Linked DNA regions of Homo sapiens: all the other regions are reported to be linked to region 1. The links are microRNA targets in miRTarBase. Many come from high-throughput screens and were not tested one by one. Region 1 holds a microRNA gene; each other region holds the end of a gene's coding sequence.
The links. The annotated mature microRNA hsa-miR-3675-3p reads CAUCUCUAAGGAACUCCCCCAA and lies in region 1 at 3,021-3,042, opposite strand. An mRNA with a match to its seed (bases 2 to 7 or 8) in the 3' UTR can be bound and repressed. Matches are read on the target gene's strand: a 7mer-m8 pairs with bases 2 to 8, a 7mer-A1 pairs with bases 2 to 7 and ends in A, and an 8mer does both.

Region 2: the mRNA of RIPPLY3 is a reported target of hsa-miR-3675-3p. The part of its 3' UTR that is shown has no 7-base or 8-base seed match.
Region 3: miRTarBase lists ZNF660 as a target of hsa-miR-3675-3p. Seed matches in the 3' UTR shown: 8mer at 140-147.
Region 4: miRTarBase lists ELP3 as a target of hsa-miR-3675-3p. Seed matches in the 3' UTR shown: 7mer-m8 at 1,591-1,597.
Region 5: the mRNA of HASPIN is a reported target of hsa-miR-3675-3p. The part of its 3' UTR that is shown has no 7-base or 8-base seed match.
Region 6: miRTarBase lists ZNF268 as a target of hsa-miR-3675-3p. Seed matches in the 3' UTR shown: 7mer-A1 at 601-607 and 7mer-A1 at 3,552-3,558.

What each region holds. Positions count from the first base shown.
Region 1 is chr1:16,855,938-16,860,044 of GRCh38, forward strand. It overlaps MIR3675 (microRNA 3675), which reads right to left and starts at 3,084; the gene lies at 3,012-3,084. It also overlaps the pseudogene PDE4DIPP9.
Region 2 is chr21:37,017,534-37,021,533 of GRCh38, forward strand. It overlaps RIPPLY3 (ripply transcriptional repressor 3), which reads left to right. Exons shown (of 4, transcript NM_018962.3): 4 at 341-2,129. The coding sequence ends at 674. Among named protein-coding and RNA genes, the nearest start is that of RIPPLY3, 13 kb to the left of the region's middle.
Region 3 is chr3:44,594,370-44,598,476 of GRCh38, reverse strand. It overlaps ZNF660 (zinc finger protein 660), which reads right to left. Exons shown (of 3, transcript NM_173658.4): 3 at 1-4,107. The coding sequence ends at 3,288. The region is part of intron 2 of ZNF660-ZNF197 (ZNF660-ZNF197 readthrough); the gene reads right to left. The region is part of intron 2 of ZKSCAN7-AS1 (ZKSCAN7 ZNF cluster antisense RNA 1); the gene reads left to right. Among named protein-coding and RNA genes, the nearest start is that of ZNF660-ZNF197, 11 kb to the right of the region's middle.
Region 4 is chr8:28,189,150-28,193,256 of GRCh38, forward strand. ELP3 (elongator acetyltransferase complex subunit 3) reads left to right here. Exons shown (of 15, transcript NM_018091.6): 15 at 500-2,004. The coding sequence ends at 576. Among named protein-coding and RNA genes, the nearest start is that of ELP3, 98 kb to the left of the region's middle. RefSeq lists an enhancer at 2,455-3,207.
Region 5 is chr17:3,725,696-3,729,802 of GRCh38, reverse strand. It overlaps HASPIN (histone H3 associated protein kinase), which reads right to left. Exons shown (of 1, transcript NM_031965.2): 1 at 3,104-4,107. The coding sequence ends at 3,471. It overlaps ITGAE (integrin subunit alpha E), which reads left to right. Exons shown (of 31, transcript NM_002208.5): 24 at 248-325; 25 at 1,635-1,698; 26 at 1,777-1,884. Among named protein-coding and RNA genes, the nearest start is that of HASPIN, 3.8 kb to the right of the region's middle.
Region 6 is chr12:133,203,964-133,208,070 of GRCh38, forward strand. ZNF268 (zinc finger protein 268) reads left to right here. Exons shown (of 6, transcript NM_003415.3): 6 at 1-4,107. The coding sequence ends at 567. Among named protein-coding and RNA genes, the nearest start is that of ZNF268, 25 kb to the left of the region's middle.

The sequences.
Region 1 (4,107 bases):
GTTAAGAGAAAAGATCCTGGGGTCAGACTTGTTGCTTCAAATCCCAATTTGTAAACTTTCCTATGCTCCAGTTTCTTCAAATGTTAAAATAGTAATAAAGGAACTACCTACCCCATCAGGTACTAATGTCAATTAAATGAGTAAATTCTTATAAAATGCTTTAGAACAGTGTCTGGCATCGGGTAAAATGCTGTGGATTAGTTCTCATTCTGACTACCACTGCCCCAATACACTGATGTTAACATGCTGATATATTTATTCAAACTCTTATTTTCCTTTGCCTATTTTTCACACAGTTATAACCCAATAAACTTTTAAATTATAGTAAACTTTAGAGAGCATTAAACTTGCAGCATGCAGAAATAGCTTGTCCTACATTCTTGTGGCTATCCTAACTAGATAAGGCCATGTTAATAATGTCTTGAGAAACATCAGTGTGTGTGGAATGAACACAGGATGTTGGAGGATTTGAATTCAGGCTCTGCCACGTGCTAGTTTGAGTGATCTAGAACAAGCTGGTTTACCACCTCTCTTTAAGTTTTGGTTTCCCCAGTCAGTAAAATAGAGAGTGGTGAAACCTAACTTGTGGGTATAAGGAGGATAAGAAATACTGTATTTGAATGCCTAGTACAGTGTCAGGGTTGAATAAAGTACGACTTCACCTTTTTCCCTAGTAATTATTATCCTCATGACCAAACCTGCCTCCTCTCAAAGGCAGTGGCCACAACAGCACATCCAACTTTTATTCAGGAAGACATCTTTGTCTTTTTTCAGAGCATGAGGAGCACAGCAGCCGCAAGGAAATGGTCCTGGTGGAGGGGCTGTGCTCTGAGCAGGGGCGCCGGGGCTGAACGCTGGCTAGTTCCTCTGAGAGGAAGCCCTTGGAGAATGAACTAGGGAAGCAGGAAGAGTTCTGGGTATATGGAAAGTCAGAAAACATCTGGGTCCTATGAAAGGACATCAAAGATCTGAAGGCCCAGCTGCAGAATGCCAACAAGGTCATTCAAAACTTCAAGAGCCAGGTCCAGTCCCTCTCAGTTACAAGTGATTATTCATCTAGTCTGGAAAGACCCTGGAAGCTGAGAGCTCCTGACACCCTGGAGGGGTCTTCACCTCATAGTGTCACTGATGAGGATGAGGTGTGGCTGTCTGATGGCACTGGGGCTTTCTACTCTCCAGGACTTCAGGCCAAAAAGGACCTGAAGAGTCTCATCCAGAGAGTATCCCAGCTGGAGGCCCAGCTCCCAAAAAATTGACTAGAAGGGAAGCTGGCTGAGGAGCTGAGATCAGCCTCATGGCCTGGGTAAGGATGGCACTGTCTGGGCACTTTCTGGATTGAAAATGTGTAAGTTTGTGCTTGGTGTAGGGTAGCTCAGGCAGTTGGAAGAAACAACATGTCTGGGTATTCACAAGGACACTGATTTAAATGGTAGATATAGGTCTGTGGAAAAGACAGGTAGGCAAGCAGGAGGGCATAGGATGATGTCCCAGTATCTGGGAGATACCAGATCTCAGGGATTTCCTCTTAGGGATATATCAGTAAAGTAATAGTACATATGGTATAGTATAGTATAGTATAGTATAGTATAGTATAGTATAGTATAGCATAGTATAGTGGTAATACTGGAATCAGACTGCCTAGCTCTGATGCTTACTACCCATGCAACCTTCTTAACCTTTCTGAGCCTTTGTCATTACCTATTAAATGAGGATGATAACAGAACCCATCTCAAAGGGTGGATATTAGGTTTAAATGAATTAATACAAGTGCTGGCCAGGTGTGGTGGCTCATGCCTGTAATCCCAACATTTTGGGAGGCTGAGGTGGGCAGAACACCCGAGGTCAGGAGTTCGAGACCAGGCTACCCAACATGGTGAAACCCTGTCTCTACTAAAAATATAAAAATTAGGTGGGCATGGTGGTGCACCCCTGTAATCCCAGCTACTCAGGAGGCTGAGGCAGGAGAATCGCTTGAACCTGGGAAGTGGAGGATGCAGTGAGCCGAGATGGTACCACTGCACCCCAGCCTGGGTGACAGAGCAAGACTCTGTCTCAAAAAAAAAAAAAAATTAGTACAAGTGCTTAGAATGGTGCCCAGCATACATTAAGCTCTCAATGCTATTTGCCATAGTTATCAGTGTTATTGACACTTTGTGTTGAAAACACAGACATTCATCTTGGTATGCGTCCTGGTTATCTACTGCTAAGTAAGAACCACTCTAAAACTTAGTGACTTCAAACAGTACTTTATTATGCTTCATGGTTCTGTGGTTTGACTGGGCTCAGCTGGGTGGCTCTCACTTAGGGTCTCTTGTTTTGGGTCTCATCAGTTGATGGCATGAGAGTTTATGTGATGGCCATGATTGCAAAATACAGTCAGCCACAGTATCACAACACAGAAGAAATTCAGACATCAGGTGGTGGTTAAAACAGAAGACATGAAAGGTCCTATCTAGACTTAGGATGAGATGAGTCTAATTATTCATTGAGTATCTGCTGTGAATCTCTGTGATGCTGGTGCTGTAAGGGATGTGAAACGCAGAACTATCTTCATTCTCACAGACCTTACGATTTATCTAGGGACATATAATTAACATATATAGAACAGTTGAAGAACAGTGGCATGGTAAATTTTTTGTTTTGTTTTGTTTTGATACAGAGTCTCACTCTGTCACCCAGGCTGGAGTGCAGTGGTGCCATCTCGGCTCACTGCAACCTCTCCCTCCCAGGTTCAAGCAATTCTCCTCCCTCAGCCTCCCAAGTAGCTGGGATTACAGGCATGTGCCACCATGCCCAGCTAGTTTTTTTGTGTGTTTTTAGTAGAGGAGGGGGTTTCACCATATTGGCCAGGCTGGTCTCGAACTTCTGACCTTGTGATCTGCCTGCCTCAGCCTCCCAAAGTGCTGGGATTACAGGCGTCAGTCACCACGCCCGGCCCATACTAAATTTTTAGTGCAATAATTTATCAGGGTAGAATTTACTCTTAAATACCTCCTATGGCTTACGTGCCAGAATTCAGTTTGGGGGAGTTCCTTAGAGATGTTCTCATAGAAATCTCTACAGAAGCCCCATAACTTATCATCCACCCTTTCCTCTTCTGTCCTGCATTAGGAAATATGATTCCCTGATTCAGGATCAGCCCCGGGAACTGTCTTACCTACGGCAAAAAATACGAGAAGGGAGAGGTGTTTGTTATCTTCTCACCCAGCATGCAAAAGATACAGTAAAATCTTTTGAGGATCTCTTAAGGAGCAATGACATTGACTACTACCTGGGACAGAGCTTCCGGGAGCAACTGGCCCGGGGAAGCCAGCTGACAGAGAGGCTCACCAGCACACTCAGCACCAGTAGGTTGGCCACAGGGCTTTGGATACTCTCAGTCACCCCACAGTTCCAGCCCCTGGTGGCCACCACATCTCCACTGCAACTTTTTAACGTAGGGTCCTGTTTCTATTTCATTTCCTGGGGCTAATACAGGATCAAGACTGCTCAATGGGGAGCATGGAGAGGAACACACAGGGCTGGAGATGCCATGGTTACAACTCTAGAAACTTCACCACTCATGGAATGTGACCTGTGGGGCAGGGGCGGCATCTCTCTGGTGCTAAGAGGGAGTAGGGGACATGACATGGAAGGGCCTTGTTATAGGAGGAAGAGCCGTGAGCTAACAATTGCAAGACGTCGAGGCGCTGAGGCCAAAGGGTCCGTGAGGAAACAGGCGCAGCTCGCGCCCCTCGGCCTACGGGAGGGAGGGCAAGGAGAGTCCTACGGTTCCTGGGAGGACGAGAAGAGCCAAGAGCCCCGACGGCCGGCGCCGGGGAAAAGGCCCCGAGGCGGGGTCCGCATCCCTGGAAGGGCGGCGTCCACCCTCCTGAGAGGCACGGGGCGCCCAGGGCTCGGACGCTCAAAGCCCGCCGGCTCCTGCAGCTTCTGGGAGCCGAAGAGTGTCAGCCGGGAGGATCCCGCACACGGCGCTTAGTTCTGGAACTGCATACCCAGGGGAGGATGCGGGAGCCCGAAGCCCGGGTATGTGTCCCCGAAGCCCGGGTGTGGGTCCCCATGGTTTTCGTGTTGGGGGTGGGCGCGGAACGCTAAGCCTGGGCCTAT
Region 2 (4,000 bases), not on the chromosome of region 1:
GTCCGCTATTTGATCAGAGTGAGCCTCCTAATCTTGGAACTCAGTGTTTTCAGTTGCCTTTTACCTTCCTTGAAGCACACCCTCTTCCTTGCGACTGTCTGAATTGACTGGCTCAGTCAGATTTATAACTCACTTCTGAACCGGGGTAGGTTTATCACCAGGTGCCTCCAATAGGTGCCTAGAGTTCTCTGTTCTGATGACTTAAATTCTGTGTGTTGTGAAGGCAAAGACCAGAAAGGAAGACTGGGGAGTTCTCTGCTTCTGGGAAAAAGCACCCTCTAGAAGCAATTTAGGACGAGGTTCAGGTTGATTAATGGTATATTTGTTTCTTAAATATTAGAGTCTATTTACCCATGTCAAAGCGTCAAGAATACCTGCGGAGTTCCGGGGAGCAAGTACTGGCCAGTTTCCCAGTGCAAGCCACGATTGACTTCTACGACGATGAGTCTACTGAGTCTGCTTCCGAAGCTGAAGAGCCAGAGGAAGGACCCCCACCCCTCCATCTTCTGCCCCAGGAGGTGGGAGGTCGGCAGGAAAATGGCCCAGGGGGAAAGGGCAGAGACCAGGGCATCAACCAAGGGCAGCGATCCTCAGGAGGGGGTGACCACTGGGGGGAGGGTCCGCTCCCTCAAGGTGTCTCCTCAAGGGGTGGCAAGTGCTCCTCATCCAAATGAATCAGTCTCTGTCTCCTGGGCCCTGCTCTGGGACCTGCCCCTCACGTTCTCTTGGGGACACCCGAGCCAGGACACTACGCATCCCTGCTGAGTGTGCAGAGGCTAGAGGCTTCTCGGGCAGCCCCTGGCCTGCACACTACTCATGACAGAAAGTCAGCTTTTACTTTTCTTTCCCCTGGCAATTCGTTTTTGGTGCACTCATGCATGCCTTTGAGAAAGGATTCTAGGAGAAAGAGAAGGTCTATGTCAACAGAGTTGTTATCTCATAGAGCCAGTTTTCAAAGCTCCTTCTGCATTGTCACTCACTGATCAGGTGATGAATTCTTCCTAGATAGTCGCCCACTCCACCTCCTACTTAACCTGAGACTCATTATTTAGCTATTTCTGCTTTTGTAAAAATAATTCAGATATTAAACTCCAATTTTAATCTATCATCCAAGGGTAGATGTAGTTGCTTAGTAGCATTTTGGAAAAAAAAGAAAAAAAGGTTTGGTTTGGTTTTGTGACGGAGTTTTGCTCTTGTCTCCCAGGCTGGAGTGCAGTGACACAATCTCGGCTCACTGCAACCTCCACTTCTTGGGTTCAAGTGATTCTCCTGTCTCAGCCTCCCAAGTAGCTGGGATTACAGGCATGAGCTACCACGCCTGGCTAATTTTTTGTATTTTTAGTAGAGACTCGGTTTCACCATGTTGGTCAGGCTGGCTTTGAACTCCTGACCTCAGGTGATCCACCCGCCTTGGCCTCCCAAAGTGCTGGGATTACAGGCGTGAGCCACTGAGCCCGGCCAAAAAAAAATGTATTTATTAAAAAAAAATTTTTTTAACCCGCCGAATAATTCCCATAAGAGTAACAAAAAGGACCAGCCTGACCAACGTGGAGAAACTCTGTCTCTACTAAAAATACAAAATTAGCCAGGCGTGATGGCTCATGCCTGTAATCCCAGCTACTCGGGAGGCTGAGGCAGGAGAATGGCTAGAACCCGGGAGGCGGAGGTTGCCGTGAGTCGAGATCGCACCATTGCATTCCAGCCTGGGCAACAAGAGCGAAACTCCGTCTCAAAAAAAAAAAAAAAAAAAAAGAAAGAAAAGAGTAACAGAAAGATAGGGATTTTTAGGAGACAATTAGATAAAAATGTATGTGATGACTGTATAAGGAGGCCTGTGTGTATGAATTTATAGGGAGTAGAACCGTCTCTCTTCTTAGTTGGTGACTGTTTGGGGCCTGGTATTTTAATAGATGAACACTACTTTTTTAATTTTTTATTTTTTTAACCCTACCCTTAACCCATGAACACTATTTTTAATTAAAGTATCTGATGTAAAATTATTTTGAGTTTTTAATATTTTGATAAACGTGTATTCCTGAAACTTTTTGACTTACTTATCTTACATGTGGTGTCTTCCTGTATATAGTACATTATATCAATTTCTACTTGAAATAAATATTTTGAAAGAATGTTTGATAATCACCCTTTTTTGCTTAAGACATTTTTAGAATTAAATAGTTTCTGCTTTAAGGTTTTTTCATTTTTCATGGTTTTTAAAAATAATTCTTTTAAAATTATAACCTATTATTTTATTTCAGTATTCTGTTTTATTTTTTAAAATTTTAGACACAGGGTCTTGCTCCGTCCCTGGCTGGAGTGCAGTGGCTCAATAATAGCTCACTGCAGCCTTGAACTCCTGGGCTCAAGGAATCCTCCCACCTCAGCCTTCGCAGTAGGTAGGACAACAGGCGTGAGCCACCATGCCCAGCAATGTTTTTTGAGACGGAGTTTCGCTCTTGTCACCCAGGCTGGAGTGCAATGGCACAATCTCGGCTCACTGCAACCTCTGCCTCACAGGTTCAGTCGATTCTCCTACCTTGGCCTCCTGAGTAGCTGGGATTACCGGCACGTGCCACCAAGCCTGGCTAATTTTGTATTTTTAGTAGAGATGGGGTTTTACCATGTTGGCCAGGCTGGTCTCAAACTCCTGACCTCAGGTGATCCACCCACCTCGGCCTCCCAAGGTGCTGGGATTACAGGCATGAACCACCATGCCCAGCCACCCAGTTAATTAAAAAAAATTTTTTTTTTGTAGATACAGGTTCTCAATACATTGCCAAGGCTGCTCTTGAACTCCTGGCCTCAAGCTATCGTCTTACCTAGGCCTCCTAAAGCACTGGAACTACAGGAATGAGCCACCATACTAGGCCCAATATATTAAAAAGTAGGAGTAATGAATGGAAATACTTTCAGCAATCCAAACACTATAGAAAGTACACATTGCAAAGTAAAATCACATTCTGCTCTTCCCCCTTTCCTTTGTCTAAAGATAACAAACATCAATTGTGTTTTATGGCTTCAGTCTTTTGAAAAATTCCTTTTTTGTGTGTTTTTCTTTTCTGGGCCTTTTTTTCTTTTAAAATGTTTACTTTTTTGTGTTTTGAACAAATTTGGCTACTTTTTCATTTAAAAATTAAAAATTATATTTTATTGTTTCTTTTACTTGTTTAAAGTACATCTTTTCAGACTTAAAAACAATTAAACCTGGGTCAATTTCAGAAAGGATTTAAGATGACCCCGAATTTTGCTGGCTTTTCACAGAAAAATGCTAGAAGTCTTATCCTCACTCCTTCATGTGATGCTTAAGATAAAAACTAAATAATCACATCTGACTTTGTTGAGTTTTCTTGATAAATCAGTTTTATTGACAAATAAAGCCTGGTCCAATAATGAGTTTATCCTAAATAAACCAAACATAGTCCAAATTCTGATGGCATCAACCTCCACAGTTTAAAATATGCTGCGTGTGCCAGGTGAGATGGTTCACCCCTGTAATCCCAGCACTTTGGGAGACCGAGGCAGGTGGATCACTTGAGTCCAGGAGGTCGAGACCTGCCTGGACATGGTGAAACCCCTTCTCTACTAAAAATACAAAAAATTCACCAGGCGTGGTGACACGTGCCTGTAGTCTCAGCCACTTGGGAGGCTGAGGTGGGAGGATCACCTGAGCCTGGGGAGGTTGAGGCTGCAGTGAGCCAAAATCACACCACTGCACTCCAGCTTGGGAGACAGAAAGAGACCCTGCTCAAAAAAGTTGATTAATATATGCTGTATGATAGTTTTACATTACATTAATTCTAAATTACTTAGAATCTGGCCAGCTTAGTGCAAATACAAAACAAGGCACTTTAGCTATGGCTAGCAATGGAATCACATATACTGTGGGTCAGACATTTTTGATAGCAAGGATATGGTGAGCTTGGGGCCTCCTTAGCTCTCTGATTGTTACAATTACGTGAATTAACTAAAAGTCTCAAACCTAAGAGCTCCAGGGTTTTGG
Region 3 (4,107 bases), not on the chromosome of region 1:
AATAAATAAATAAATACACATATAAATAAAGCCAGGTGCAGTGGCTCATGCCTATAATCCCAGCACTTTGGGAGGCCGAGGCAGGTGGATCTTGTGAGGTCAGGAGTTCGAGATCAGCCTGGCCAACATGGTGAAACCCTATCTCTATTAAAAATACAAAAATTAGCTGGGTGTGGTGGCAGGTGCCTGTAATCTCAGCTACTCAGGAGGCTGAGGCAGGAGAATTGCTTGAACCTGGGAGCTGGAGGTTGCGGTGAGCTGAGAGCTGAGATCACGCCACTGCACTCCAGCATGGGCGACAGTGCGAGATTCCATCTCAAAAAAAAAAAAAAAAGAAAAGAAAAGAAAAGAAAGAAAAAGAAAGCACATTAAAAGAGACAGTTCCTGGTTTCCAGAGGGTATTATGAAAGGGCTTGAAAGGATGGTAAGAGCTGCATGCCTAAACTCTGACTGAGGTAAAAGTTGGTAACCCTGGGAGACTCCCGGAGAAAGGTGGGTGATCAGTTCAAATTATAGCTGAATGTTTATCTGAAAGGATGCAGGAACCCACTGTCAAGTGTTTATTCCTACAGCTCAAGGCAGGTATTAGCCTAGAAGATGGGTGATGGCCTCCTCAAGAGACTATAATCCTCGCCTGCCTGGGGCAAGAAATATGAAGCTCTCCTATATTCAGTTCTCTGGTTATGAGATGGCATCATATCCTTCCTTGAGATATACTCTTGAAGATCATAGTCTTCTAAGACAAAAAAGAAAGCCTATCTAAATAAAGAGTTTTAGGCACTATGACATGGTGGTGAAAAAATGTTTTGGTCAGAGAATATCTGCTCAGCAATATATAAAGCATCAACAATTCTGCTCAGGAATGATAGACCAGGCTTGTCCATGAATGCTACAAATCTGTTCCAGGCCTTCCAAACCCTGCTTGGAATGACCATGCAAAGGACTATTATATCACAAATTATGTGCAAACCACTATCCTATCAAAATAGGACAAAATCAGTAATTTTTTTTCACACAAATATACAACCTTCACCCTTCACTTCTTTCTTTCCGGTAACAGCAAGAAAGAAATATATATACCTTAAAACTAAATTATGAGGTACAGAGATAGGCCATAAACCCCATTCACAGAACACTGATAACATCTTCCCTATAAAACCATGGTCAAATATCAAATAATTGTTAGATACAATCACCTTTCATAGAGGCAGCTACCTGGGAAAACGCCAACTGGTCTTCCACTCACATACAGAACCACCATGGTGGGCAGAGGCACTTTGGTATAATGAAGAAAGCATGAATTTCAAAGTCAGATCTGAGCTCAAATCCTGGCTCCGACAACTTACTAGCCAGTCACCTAACCTCAATGACACTCAATTTTCTTGTATAATAGAGGGAGAACTAAATAACATATTATCAAAAATTCCCCAAACACTAATTCACTATGTGCATAAGACAGATAACAGTGGGCTTAGGGATTCACTGTATACACAGAGGAATGGCTGAGTTAAAAATAGGGAGATTCTAAGTGTTTCAGAGTGACTTTGAGCTAAGCACTTAAAATGTTTTAAATATTGGTGGAAGATGGGCTAAGACCTTCAAGGAGGACTGGTCATAAAGAAAGGCAGAGGAAGATAGAAAACATCTGTTGTATTGATTGCTCAACACCTCTCCGTCCCTTCTTCAGGGAAAGATTTTTCTCAGTGACAAAAGGAAGAAACCAGATGAGAAAGCCTCAGCTCCTTTTCCAGTTCCCAATCTGAAGGAGTTGTGTGAAGGCAAGATGCAGCTGTGGCCACTGTCTTGCCACCATGAGGTTATGAAAAATGAAAGTCAACATGCTGAAAATTATGGAGTTAAGAGAGAAGTGTGATGAAGTGCTGAGTTGCCAAACCAAACATAGCACTGCTTACCTCTAGATTCCCCTTAAGCAATCAATCAATGTTCTTAAGGTCTAGGCTGCTAGTACTTGGTATTCTGTTCAATACATCTGAAAATATCCTAAGTACTACCTTACACAAAAATTCTCTTTAATCACTCTCCCTAAAGTGTTTAGAAACACTGCTACAATGTCCTATACTTAAGATTTTATCATTTACCACGTGTCTGGCTTATCATATATTTCATGCATTACTCACTTAATCCTCACAACAACCTTGTAAGGTAGGTAATTGTTCCTTTTTTACACACAGGTCTGAGGCTCAGAGCAGTTAAGTGACTTGTCCAAAACTGACAAGCTAGTTCATGGTAGAACTGGGGTTAGAACATGGATATCTCCAACCCCAAAGTTTGTACTTTTAGCCTTTAAACTCTATATACCATGTGAAGGCAGAGTCTCCCACTAGTTTTATATTAACTGGTGACTGTATCTGAAGTTTTTGAGTCTACAGTTGTTTCAATTTCATTTTTTTCTGGTTGTGTAGACATATGTTGAAAAGATGAAGCCTAGGTAGTTCTCCATCATCTGCAGATCCTTCCAGAACTGTGGGAAAGGAGGGTTCAGTGAATTTTTGCTGTGTTCTTTTAACCTAACAGTGTTATTATATATTTTGTTGACAACTCTAAAGTCAGCTTGTCTTAAAACTAAAAAGGACAAAGGATCGGTGTTTATGATTTTACTTAACAGGAAACACGCTCTAAAAGGAAGGGACTTGCTCGCGGTTCCACTGCTGCTAAATGCCAGTGTCAGGGTGCAATCCCAGGGCTTTGGGCTCTATATACTACGTGCCTTTCATAACACTGCTGAGTGAAAATAAGCACGTCTTCATTGCATTTAAAAAATACTGTGCTTTTTTTCTTGCATATAAAATTAGTATATTCTCATGTAGATAATCTAGAAAGCATAGAAAAGTATACAGAAGAAAATAGAAATCACCTATAATCCTATCGCCCAGAGATGATCACTGTTAACATTTTGGTTTACTTCCTTCTCAATTTTTCCTATGCAAAAATATTTTTTTAAATTTTGGATTGTATGTCATTATCTTCCGTCTTATCCAATCATTTCCCCATGGCATTAAATTGTCTTTAAAAATGTTTGCAATGGCTGCAGAACCATCATATGGATAGCTCATCATTCATTTCAACCCTGTAATGTTGAAAATCTAGTTTTCTTCTTTCAGTCGTATATGATGCTGTCATGAACATCCCTTTCATTAATCTTTGTCTACTTCTAATTATTTTCTTAGAAGTAGAGTATGATTCTTAGAAGTAGAATTAAAGTTGATACTAAAGAACTACTTTTTAGAAAAGCAGCAGTCAGCCCTACTACCCACAATATTTGTTATTTATGAGGTTTCTTTCTCCTCATTATGTTTCCTCTGGTGTTGAATAAGCTGTGAACTATACCGATAGGCTTTCCCACACTCACTACATTTATAGGGTTTCTCCTTAGTGTGGGTTCTCAAGTGTAGAATAACTTGAGAAGTCTGCCTGAAGGTTTTCCCACATTCATTACATTTATAGGGTTTCTCTCCAGTGTGAACTCTCTGATGATCAACAAGGTTTCGATTAGAAGTAAAAGCCTTCCCACACTCATTACATTTGTAAGGTTTCTCTCTACGATGAAGTCTCTGGTGTTCATTAAGAGTTTTCCTTAAGATGAAAGTTTTTCCACACTCATCACATTCATAAGGCTTCTCTCCAGTGTGAATTCTCTGATGGTCCATAATCTTTGTATTAGAACCACATGTTTTCCCACACTCCTTACATTTGTAAACTTTTTTTCCTCTGTGCATTCGCTGATGTTGAGTAAGGTTTGAACTACGGCTAAAGGCTTTCCCACACTCAATACAAGAATAGGGCTTCTCTCCGGTGTGAACTCTGTGATGTGATATAAGGCCCGAACTCCGACTAAAGGCTTTCCCACACTCTTTACATTCATAAGTTTTCTCCCCACTGTGGATTCCCTGGTGCCGAATAAGATGTGACTTTCCACTGAAAGATTTCCCACATTCACTGCATGTATAGGGCTTCAGTCCAGTGTGGATTCTCCGATGAACAACAAGGTTAGAGCTATGACTGAAAGCTTTTCCACACTCCTTACACTTATAGGGTTTCTCTCCCGTGTGGATTCGCTCATGTACTGTGAGGTTTGCACTCTGACTA
Region 4 (4,107 bases), not on the chromosome of region 1:
TAGCCACAAGTGTACCTTCGCTACTGGGGCTGAGTGGAGATCCCATTTTTTCCCCCACTCTTCTCTCTTTAAAACTTCTGGGAAACCGTCTATCGTTTGGCCTCATCTGGAGCATAGGCAGCTCAGACAGTAAATCCACCTCTTCTCCTTCACCTGTAGCACCTAAGGTGGTGCCTGGTGTTGCCAGTAGGGTAGTGAATACGCAGGCTCCAACACACGGGTGCACACGTTTGCTGTTGCCTGTGAGTGTGTGTGTCACATACCCTGAGCTTGAGTTAAAAATCAGGGAAAGAGTCTTCTTCTCTCCACTTAGCAGTTTCTATATTTTAATGCAGCCTGAATTCAAAGTAATAATGTTCCAAACTTATTAAGCTGAGATTTTATGTGGGAGAGAATTTGGTCTCTGGGTGGGAGAGAGTGTAAGGCTGAGGGAAGCACATGCCGACTTTTGAGAATTGCTAAAGTGAATGCTCCTTTTTTAACTTCGATTTTTCTGCAGGGGTCGGCACCAGGAATTATTATAGAAAGATCGGCTACAGATTACAAGGCCCGTACATGGTGAAGATGCTGAAATAATGGCCACACCAGTCCACTCTTCTGCAGTATCCTCCCTGGCAGAACACGGAGAATCAGGATTTCTTAAATACTCAACAGAGAGGCTGAGCAGAGCAAATGGGGGGCTTCACCCTCATCCCGCAGCTGCAGAGACTGGAAACTGCCTTCAAGGCCACGGCTGGTCATCTGCTGACCACACCCCAGATCCGCCCTCTCCTGCGTGCACCCCAAAAAATCACTTGCGTTTTTGAGGCTTAAATCATCTATCCAGTTTCTACATTTTGCATGAGGCCTGCAGGTGGCCTATTTTGACTCAGACGGTGAAAAAAGCAAATTAACTCATTTGGACACCATAACTCATGCAATAAAACTGATTGTCATTCGAGGAGCAAACTTAAGAGTAGTTTATTTATATACCCTGGGGACAGAAAGTCAGGTTGAAACAGGAAAACCACCAGACTCTAATCTCAGCCCTTTAACGACATACGCATTGGAGCGCAAGTTAGGAAAATGAGCTTTTGTTTTCATGGAAATCATTCTGATTACAGTGCTGATGTTTAGAAATAAATAGCAGTGTGACTGGGAAAGAGGAATTGCAGTTGTGGGGGTGTGAGCCTGGCAGCAGCCAGCCAGCAGCCTCTCCCAGGCGGGAGTCTACCATCCGAGACGGCGATGACAAAGAGCTTCATTCCACATTCTTTGTTATCTCTACTTCCCACCCTCTTGGCAACTACAGAGCAGTGTGGGCAGCCCCAAGTGTGGTCCCCAGAGAGCGTTTGGCTTTCCTGTCTGTCTATCCTGAGCGGGTGGAGTCTCAGGTTGTGTGCCCCTAAATCAAGATTTGCTTCCACAGAAGCCATTACTTGCAATTTTTTTTTTTTTTCTGAGAAAGTCTCGCTGTGTCACCCAGGCTGGAGTGCAGTGGCGCAATCTCACTGCATCCTCCGCCTCCCGGGTTCAAGCGATTCTCCCGCCTCAGCCTCCTGAGTAGCTGGGATTACAGGCACCCGCCGCTGCTAATTTTTGTATTTTTAGTAGAGATGGGGGTTTCACCATATTGGTCAGGCTGGTCTCGAACTCCTGACCTCAGGTGATCAACCCACCTTGGCCTCCCTAAATGCCGGGATTACAGGCATGAGCCACCGCTCCCAGCCTTTGATTTTTTAAGGTGGATTTTGGTTGTTATAAATGGAGAAAGGTAAGAGTTCAAGTTCAACCCGTGTGTGAAAGCAAAACAATGGAAAACAGGATTGGCTTCTTCAAAGGCTCCTCTTGTAGAACTGCCTCTTTGAAATTTCGAGGTAATCTACTTTGGAGACTCTGCCTGGAGAGGGTCAGTTCCTAAGTTAAAAGCATCGCTTAACCTTGGCTCCTGTGGCATTTTACAAAGGTTTAAAGGAATTGATTCCTCTGAAAGGGCCTGAAAATAAAAAGTCTTTAACATACAAAGAAGAGTCATGTGGTTTTCTTTCTCTCCCTGTAAATGCAGTGACATTTGCCACAAATGTGCAGGTTTCAGTTTCCAACCTATGGCACTGTTCATTTCCTCCCGGGTGCTGTTTGCCATTTCATTAAACTGCTATGAGGCAAATGGCAGTGGCTTTGTTATGGGCTGGCTGTGGAACCACCACAGCTTTCCATGAGTGTCGTTTAGGGACTTAGCTACTTCTCAATTATGCTTTTTTACCCTATAAAAATAAAACAATAAAGCCTACTCCCGCTGGTTGTCAGAGCTGTGTTGCTGGAGACAGAACCAGCTGCGCAGCCCTGGAGCACAAAGTCTCTGGGCCTCGACCTTCTCATCTGTCCTAGGTGCCCAAATGGATCCACACACATAAAAGGGCTTTTGTGAAATGGTAAAAAGGCCTGCACGTGGAAAGTTCACTTCAAAAGATGACAATTTAGGGAATTTGAAACAAAATGACAGGAACTTGCACCTTTCTGATGGCTGTCAGCTATTATTGAATCCTGGTTTTATCTCAGGATTCACGAGAATCCCTCTTTCTAGCTCATCCCTGGCCTTCCTTGCCGTATCTTGTGGCCTGTGCAAAACGGCAGCAGTTGGGGAGCTTCCCCCGGGTGGCAGAGCTCCCGCCTCCCTCTGCCACCAGAAGCTTCCGCTTCTCTTGTGACTGCCAGGGCTCGTTCCGGCACGGATGGTGCTTGGCACCTCCACTGTCCGGCTGGTCTGTCTGCTCCGAGGCCTGTGGGGCCACCTCATAAGAAAGCTCAGTTGGGCACAATTCTGCTGGCCTCAGTGTGAAACCATCACAGCTGCAGGCTGATCCCATCTGAATGGAAGGACTCCTTAGCAACCACCTCCAATCTAGAAAGCTCTGCTTTTAGCTCAACTTCTGGCTACATCACCTGAAGTTTTTTTTTTTTTTTCTTTTTTTAATTCAAGTCATATCAAAAACAGACTGAAATAAATTTGAAGAGAAAATGAGATTTTTAAAATACATTATCACCGAATGAAAGGGCCTGGTAAAACTCATTGTTCCTCCCATTTGGGAACAAGCAAACCGCTTATCCATTTTCCATCTCTGCAGGCCCTAAAGTACTGCAAAGACAACTCAAAAACCAACGCCTGTTCCCCTAAAACGTCTTTCAGATTGCAAATTTTCATTGCCAATGGGGTTTTGGCTTTTTTGTTTTCAAGATTATCACATTGAAAACAGAAAATCCTGCTCCTAAAGAACTCACAGACCCCTGAGTTTACCAAAAAAAAAAAAAGCACAAGATCTGGAATCTGAAAACCTGGTTTCCTCATTAACCATGAAGCTTTGAGCAAGGCCCCTCCCCGTTTTGAGCTACCATTTCCCTATTTGTAAACACGTGTCTCTCGGGGCAAGCATAGGAATCAGATGTGGCATTTGAGAGACATTGCATAAACCAGGACATATACCAATAGTTGTTGCTGCCCCCACTGAAGTGGCTTCACTGCTGATGTGTGACCTTGGGCAAGTCAACCCTGCAAAGTTTCTTCATCTGTAAGATGGGAGTGAGGACTACAGAAGCCCATGTATGCAGGGTTCTTAGAACAGGAAGCATATTATAGACGCACTAGCTTTGATTACTAATATCTAGCAAGTGCAATCGTCAGCCCATTTTTTTTTTTCAATGAGGGAGCTTCTCTGCTGACAATAGAATTTCTGATTCTTTGCTACAATCTTAAGTTTTTCTAGAAGCCCATGTCAGAAGAATAGTATCTCTGATGCTCCAAGACCCTATTCTCCTCCTCCTCTGGTCTATTTTATTCCACAAGTCTAGGGTTGCACATTGTCAAATCCATTCCTTGAGGGCCAAGATCCTAGCTGAGACTGCAACAGCAAAAAGCATTTTGAAATACCGCTGTCACTGGAGTGGCTTCCTGGAAAGTTGTCCAGCAGCAGCACGCATTGCCGATCCCAGTGTGAGCTGGTGGCTGTGTCCGCCTAGGGAGTCTGGCAGCCATTTGTGGCAGGGGTTGGCATGGGGAGGGGACACCTTTCTATATGTTGGAGTTGTGTACACCAGTAATACACTTGTGTTTCATTCTGTGAAGGCATTTCC
Region 5 (4,107 bases), not on the chromosome of region 1:
GCCAACATGGTGAAACCCCATCTCTACTAAAAATACAAAAATTAACTGGGTATGGTGGCTCACGCCTGTAATTCCAGCTACTCAGGAGGCTGAGGCATGAGAATTGCTTGAACCCGGGGGGCGGAGGTTGCAGTGAGCTGAGACGGCAACACTGCACTCCTGCCTGGGCAACAGAGCGAAGCCCTTTTTAAGAAGCACTTGCTATGTACAAAGCAGGTGTGCTATGAACTAACACTCTTATTCCTAGTTCCAATGAAAGACGGTCTTTGGCCAACGAGACCCACACCCTTCAATTCAGGCATGGCTTCGTTGCAGTTCTGTCCAAGTGAGTACTCCCAAGAGGCCAGCAGCGGTGTGACTCCATCGCCCAGGGGGCAGCTTTGGGCTCTCTCTCGTAGATGGAGCTGGTGGTCAGGATGAATGTGGACACTGTCCTTCTGAGAGGAGCCTGCTTAGAACCCAGGCTCTGATATTGATCTCTAGGGTGCTAACATTTGGGTCACAGAAACCCCACTGTGGTCATCAAAGGAGGTGTATTGCCAACTAGTCGTGCTACAAAAGGGAATTAATATGACGCTGTGGAGGGAAGAAGGCAGCTGTGGGACTGGGAAGTAAGGAGGGGATGAGTAAGGCCATTTGAGGGATAATTAGAAAATGAACCAGCCCAACGATACAGAATTCAAATATTCCACCTCACCCCAACTGCGCTACGACCACTTTATATTTTGACATTCAGCTTTTATTCCTTTTTTTTTTTTTTTTAAACTGAGACGAAGTCTCACTCTGTCGCCCAGGCTGGAGTGCAGTGGTGCCATCTCGGCTCACTGCAACCTCTGCCGCCCAGGTTCAAGCGATTCTCCTGCCTCAGCCTCCCGAGTAGTTGAGACTACAGGTGGACACCACCAGGCCCAGCTAATTTTTAAAAAATTTTTAATAGAGACGGGGATTTCACCATGTTGGCCAGGCTGGTCTTGAACTCCTGGCCTCAGGTGATCCGCCTGCCTCGGCCTCCCAAAGTGCTGGGATGATAGGCATGAACCACTGCACCCGGCCTCATTCCTGGTAAAGGTCTGGTGCCCTCTGTCCTAATGTATTCAGTTGAAAGCAGTCGAGTTCATTCAAAAAGAGAAGGCCAGGTGCGGTGGCTCACGCCTGTCATCCCAGCACTTTGGGAGGCTGAGGTGGGTGGATCACCTGAGGTCAGGAGTTCAAGACCAGCCTGGCTAACATGGCGAAACCCCGTCTCTACTGAAAATATGAAAATTAGCCAGGTGTGGTGGCAGGCGCCTGTAATCTCAGCTACTTGGGGGCTTAGGCAGGAGAATCACTTAAACCCAGGAGGCAGAGGTTGCAGTGAGCTGAGATCGCACCACTGCACTCCAGCCTGGGCAACAGAGCAAGACTCCACCTCAAAAAAAAAAAAAAAAAAAAAAAGGGATGAGTGTAGTGGCTCATGCCTGTCATCCCAACACTTTCCCAGGCTGAGGTGGAGGATCACTTGAGCCTGGGAGGTTGAGGCTACACTGAGCCATGATTGTTCCACTGTGCTCTAGCCTGGGCAACAGAGTGAGACCCTGTCTCCAAAAAAGGGAGAAAGACTCCTCAAGGGCTGACGCATGTCCTGTCAATTGCAGACCATCCATAATGTACGTGAACACAGGCCAGGGGCTTTCTCACCACAAAGAATTCCTCTTCCATGTAAGTACTTATTATTGTAAAGCTGTAGATGGCAAAGCAATACCAGCTTTGATTTCCTACTCTGATTTTAATTTGCAGGTACATGGGGAGAACCTCTTTGGAGCAGAATACCAGTTGCAAATTTGCGTCCCAACCAAATTACGAGGTCTCCAGGTTGTAGCAGTGAAGAAGCTGACGAGGACTCAGGTATTTAAAGGCAGTTCTTTATCAGTCACACCTCTTTCCACAGTGACTACAGAGTCTCAAGTATAAAAACCAGAGTTCTAGAAACAGAGTGAAGACAAGTTAACCATGGGAAAAGATTAGGAGTAAATTCCCGAAGTCCTGTTCAGAAGGACTCTCAATCACTCAGCTCTTAAAGCAACCTGTCAGTTTTCCTCCCTTTGAGGAAAAATAAGCAAAAATTGGCCAGGTGCGGTGGCTCACACCTGTAATCCCAGCACTTTGGGAGGCCGAGGCGGGTGGATCACAAGGTCAGCAGATCGAGACCATCCTGGCTAACACGGTGAAACCCCGTCTCTACTAAAAATACAAAAAATTCTCCGGGCGTGGTGGCGGGCGCCTGTAGTCCCAGCTACTTGGGAGGCTGAGGCAGGAGAATGGTGTGAGCCCGGGAGGCGGAGCTTGCAGTGAGCCGAGATCCTGCCACTGCACTCCAGCCTGGGAGACAGAGTGAGACTCCATCTCAAAAAAAAAAAAAAGCAAAAATTAAAACCTTGTCAGTAGACAGAGACATTTTCCCTTTGAAAATTGATAAATTCTGCTTCTCTGTGTGAGCGATGTAACATGTGACATTTCTTACACTGCCCCCTATAAGTTGCTTACTAGCTTCCCTTCTTCTCCCCTGAGACTCTTTTTTGGTCTCTGCTTTGCCTCAGCCTCTTTGCTTTCAGTTGTCTCATCTGTAGTCTGGTTCCCAAAGCTAGCCTTGATACCTGAAGCAACAGGCTCTGCTCAGTATGAAGCTGAAGCCTGGGCATTTTTTTTTTGCTCAGACTACATAAGTGTTAAGGCTCAAAAAACGGAAAGGAATTTACAGAAAGGACTCTGCTGACAATTAGAAAGAGGGCTTATAGGTCAGGTGCCATGGCTCACTCCTGTAATCACCCAGCACTTTGGGATGCCGAGGTGGGTGGATCACAAGGTGAGGAGTTCGAGACCAGCCTGGCCAACATGGTGAAACCCCCATCTCTACTAAAAAAATACAAACAATTAGCCGGGCATGGTGGTGTATGCCTGCAATCCCAGCTACTCGGGAGGCTGAGGTAGGAGAATTGCTTGAACCCGGGAGGCGGAGGTTGCAGTGAGCTGAGATCGCACCACTGCACTCTAGCCTGGGTGACAGAGCAAGACTCTGTCTCAATAAAATTAAAAAAAAAAAAAAGAGGGTTTATAAATATAAACGTTTGTTTTCACATGTAGTTTATTTATTTAAAAAAATAGAGACAGGGGTCTTGCTATGTTGACCAGGCTAGATATGAACTCTTGGGCTCAAGCGATCCTCCTGCCTCAGCCTCCCGAGTAGCTGGGACTACAGGCGCACGCCACTGTGCCCGGCTAGTTTACTTCTTTCAGAACATTTGTTATCAGCAAATTTAAACATTTCAACAAATATTTCAGTTTCCATTTGGAAACAAAATTCTTGTTTGAAAAGCTGACTGGAAACCTGTGAGAATGGGAGTTCCACCCTCCTGTGGGGATGGAGGTTGAAACAGCACCAGAGGCTTCAAGACCAGTCTCCTCTCATTTCGGGGCAGTAAGATACATTTAGCTTACTTAAACAGACTGTGCTGGCAGAGCAAGTCAGTGGCAGAGCTGAAGTTCAGCATTGTCCTGTGGAACTCCTGGATTTTTCTCTTAATTTGCTTCATGGCAGGAGTGTTACATTTAGTCTTGAAGGTCATTTGTTTCAGCATCTTGTCTGTCAGGTAATGTAACCAGAGCACATTACTATAAGGGTGATATTCACCCCAGCGGTTGTTATTCTCCTTCTTCATGAGCCTGTAGATGTCAAACTGGTAGTCACCGTCACCGGTAAACAGGTCCTCATCCATGGAAACGTCACAGAAAACCACAATCCCATCCCGTTCCAAGCGCGACAGGGTGTAGTCAATGATGCTCACTTGCAACCCACAGCTGGGGATAGTGCTGCTCTTCCCATTGAGGGTGTAGTGGAGTTTTTTGAGGCTGGTTTTCTTTAAGAGCACGTTCCCCCAGTGTAAGTCTCGGTGCTCAAAGCGCAGTGATGCCTCTGCCACTGCGAGGGAGGCTGTGAGCTGGTGTAGAATGCTCTTTGCAGTAGCCAAGGAAGACAACTTGGTTCGCATTTGCTCTAAGTCAATCCCTCCAAACTCAAATTCCAGCACAATGAAGAGCTGGTCGTCTTTAAAAAAATCAGGCCGGTCATTT
Region 6 (4,107 bases), not on the chromosome of region 1:
GCCTTTAATAGGAAAGACCAGCTCATTTCACATCAGCGAACTCATGCAGGGGAAAAGCCTTATGGGTGCAGTGAATGTGGGAAAGCTTTTAGCAGCAAGTCATACCTAATTATACACATGAGAACTCATTCAGGTGAAAAACCATATGAATGTAATGAATGTGGGAAAGCCTTCATTTGGAAATCACTACTCATTGTACATGAGCGAACTCATGCAGGGGTCAACCCTTATAAATGCAGTCAATGTGAGAAATCCTTCAGTGGGAAATTACGCCTTCTTGTACACCAGAGAATGCACACAAGAGAGAAACCATATGAATGCAGTGAGTGTGGAAAAGCCTTCATTAGGAATTCTCAACTCATTGTACATCAAAGAACTCATTCAGGAGAGAAACCCTATGGGTGCAATGAATGTGGGAAAACCTTCTCTCAAAAATCAATTCTCAGTGCACATCAGAGAACACATACAGGAGAGAAGCCTTGTAAGTGCACTGAATGTGGGAAAGCCTTTTGTTGGAAGTCACAGCTCATTATGCATCAGAGAACTCATGTAGATGACAAACATTGATAATTTTACGAAACTCTGAAAAGTGGATTCACAAGAGATAGAAACAATCATATATAAAGAGAAACTCTGTAAGTGGAATCATCTTGTCATCTTCCAGAAAACTCATACTGAATAGAAACTTTATGAATGCACAGCATATGGAAAGGCATCCACAGAAAGCTGTTCTTTACATGCAAAAAGATAGTAGACAATACACAGGAAAACTGAATTTAGTAACCACTCTGAAAATTTTTAGCAGCAAGTCATACCTTTTTTTAAAAAGTTCATACAGGTGAGGAACCATGTTAAACGTTGTAAAGTCATTTTACTAAAATAAGATTCACAAAGAGGAAACTTCATGAACCAGATGAATATAGAATAGACTTCTTTGAAATTCATAGTTTACAGAATTTTAATGAGAGAAATTATTGAGCTAATGAATGGCAGAATTAACAAAATTACAAACATTTTATGTATCGGAAGCATATACCTTGGAGGGACCATGCTATAAGGGAAAGTGTAAATCTAGAAATGAGAAACCCCTAGGGAAAAAATATATATAGGAGTGAACATCTTATGAATGTACCAAATAAACCACAGCTGGACTGTTAACCTCACCTTAGAAGCTTCATTCTAAAAAAAAAAAAAAAAAAAAAAAAAAAAACCAACCTGTTATTATATCTTAATATTAATTTTGAAGAATTATTTCTTTTAGGAATCATTTTAAGAAATTTTATTCCAGGTGTTCCAAAATTTCAGGAAAAGGTTTGAGAAAATTCTCAATTATAAATAATAAGATACAGATTATTTCATTGTACAAGTGAATCTAGTAAGGAGGTTAAGAATAAGAAATAACATCCCAGAGCCTACAGGGATATTTAGATATCTTCCTATGTGTACTACATAATATGAATTTTGCAGTTTGGCATTTTACTTGCGAATGCCATATGTGAGACAAAAATCATCTTCCAGAGATTTCAGTATCTCTGATACTGACAATATCTCTGATATGACAATATCATCTTCCAGAGATTTCTACTCTGCATACCAACATTGTTTCTTTGTGTCTTACCAAATGCAACTTGTTACTAGAATATGACTTACTAAAAATGCATTTCCACACTGCAAACATTTTTTAGGGCTATCTTCTGCCCTTTGGAAGCAGTCTTGGCAGCAACCTCTTTAGTAATCAATATAAGGCACACTTCATGTGTTTGTGTAGCCTGGAATCTATTCTACCTTCACAGGTTAGAACATCTTGATTTCCTCTTAACGAAACATTCCCTAACGGTGTATGTAGTCATGAGGGAACCACCATTCAAGATGCCCTGCTCAGGACTTGGCATGAGCACTATGGTCAGCTGAGGCTCAGAACTGTACATTGTTAATGGGTTTTTCAAGTTCAGAAAAGCAACATGAGCTTTTGTTCTGTGGTAGCATGTTGATGTAATAAGTAGCTATTTCAATAGAGGTTCCCAGAACAGCTTTTGTTACTGTCATTTTCTTAACTTTGTTCACTTGTCTTTTATTTTGAGCTATTGGGTGTGCTTTTAATACATTCCTTGTTTGATTGCATTAGCCATTGTGTATCTTTTGCATACAGCTTACTAAATCAGATGGCTTCAGAAATGGGTGGTAGAGGAGTAGGCAGAAACTTGCAAGGATATGTGGATATTTGGAAATGGTTGTTTCCCAAGACAGGATGGAAGTCTTTTAAGCAAGAAACTTGGCCCATGCTATGAAGTCATGAAATGAATTGTTGGCATCATGTGCTCACTGAGGCTTTGGGGAAATGGATAAGTTGTCATTGAAAAATTTTAAACAGAATTCTGGAGTGGTCAAGAGGGGAATGCTTTTGATACCCATGTATAACATGGAGAATAATGATCTTAAAACTTCAATTTAAGATTATGTGTCAGTGATACTACTTAGTTACATGTAGCTATAGAGTCACAGTGGTGAAAAACTCTGCCAGTTGCTTACTCACAAAGTTAGTTTTCTTCACTACCTCATCAGGTTTGTTATGTGAGTGGGCATTAATCTGGGAAGAGTGGGACCCTGCCAGTTAGATTAGGGCTATCTTGGAGGAATATGCGGATTCAATACTGCAAATATTTCTGAAACACCTTCTGCTTTGTACTCTATTAGATACCCAAAGAAATTTTCATCCTTGAAGCGGAGGAATTTAATGATACCTGAATGCCTAACTGTTGTATTCTGCTTATACAGAATCCAATCTCAAGATACTTGGGGTGAAGAATGATGATTCACAGAAGGGAAGGGACATCTTACATAAACAAATAATCGCAGATACTTGCTAAAGTGTATCCCCCAATCTGGGAAATACTGTAAAGGTGTATATTATTATTGATGTACCAAAGAAGACAGAATAAATTCATAAGAGAAAGTTTATATTCAGTTTACTACTACCTAGGGTTAGATTTTAGTTTGTTGTTTTTTCAGATGCAAATCTACATGCAGCCTTGCCTGGTAGAAGCCAGAAGTGTTGACAGTATTGAGGACAGCACTCACATACTGTGGGAAAGAATAATACTTGATTAGGACTTATTATTTAATGAAATGAAAATTTTACAAAACAGAAATTGAGTTACTGGTTTGTAAATCTATCTAGTCCTTCTACCCCAGCCCCAGAAAAGAAAGACATTCCAGAGACTTTTCAGGAATAGTTATTATAAGGAAAATCCAAGGAAAAATAACCCCAATATTTTACAACTTCCCCATCAAATAGAAATTTAGGAGAAAAAATGACTTGCAAACCATATTTGTGAACATAGGTTTAAAAATCCATATTTGTGAACATAGGTTTAAAAATCCATATTTGTGAACATAGGTTTAAAAATTCTAAATGGAATTATAGCAAACCAATGTATAGCTAACAAGAAAGTCATGATATTAGGTTTAACAGACTATTAGTGGATCCAGCATCCTTTGTTCATTACCAGCAGAATCACTATTATTTATAATGGCAGTATGCCCACTTAAAAAGAGATATATGGGGCCAGGCACGGTGGCTCACACCTATAATCCCAGCACTTCAGGAGGCTGAGATGGTGGATCACCTGAGGTCAGGAGTTTGAGACCAGCCTGGCCAACATGGTGAAACCCCTCTCTACTAAAAATACAAAAAAATAGCAGGGCATGGTAACTGACACCTATAATCCCAGCTACTTGGGAGGCTGGGACGGGAGAATCACTTGAATCTAGGAGGCGGAAGTTGCAGTGAGCTGAGATCGTACCACTGTACTCCACCCTGGGTGACAGAACTAGACCCTGTCTCAAAAAACAGAAGAGTATGTTTGGAAGATTTAATATTAGAAAATATTTTAATTAACTACCAGATAAAACTCATAAGGATTATCTCAGTATATGCTGATAAATCACTTGATGGAATTTAACACCCATAGATGACACTAAAATACTATTAAGTTGGGAATTAAAATTAACTCCTGTAACTTGGTAGGGAATATATGTTCTGAAAACACAAATGTCATACTTAATGATAAAATAGTAGAAAGATTCCTTTAAAGTAAAATTAGCCAG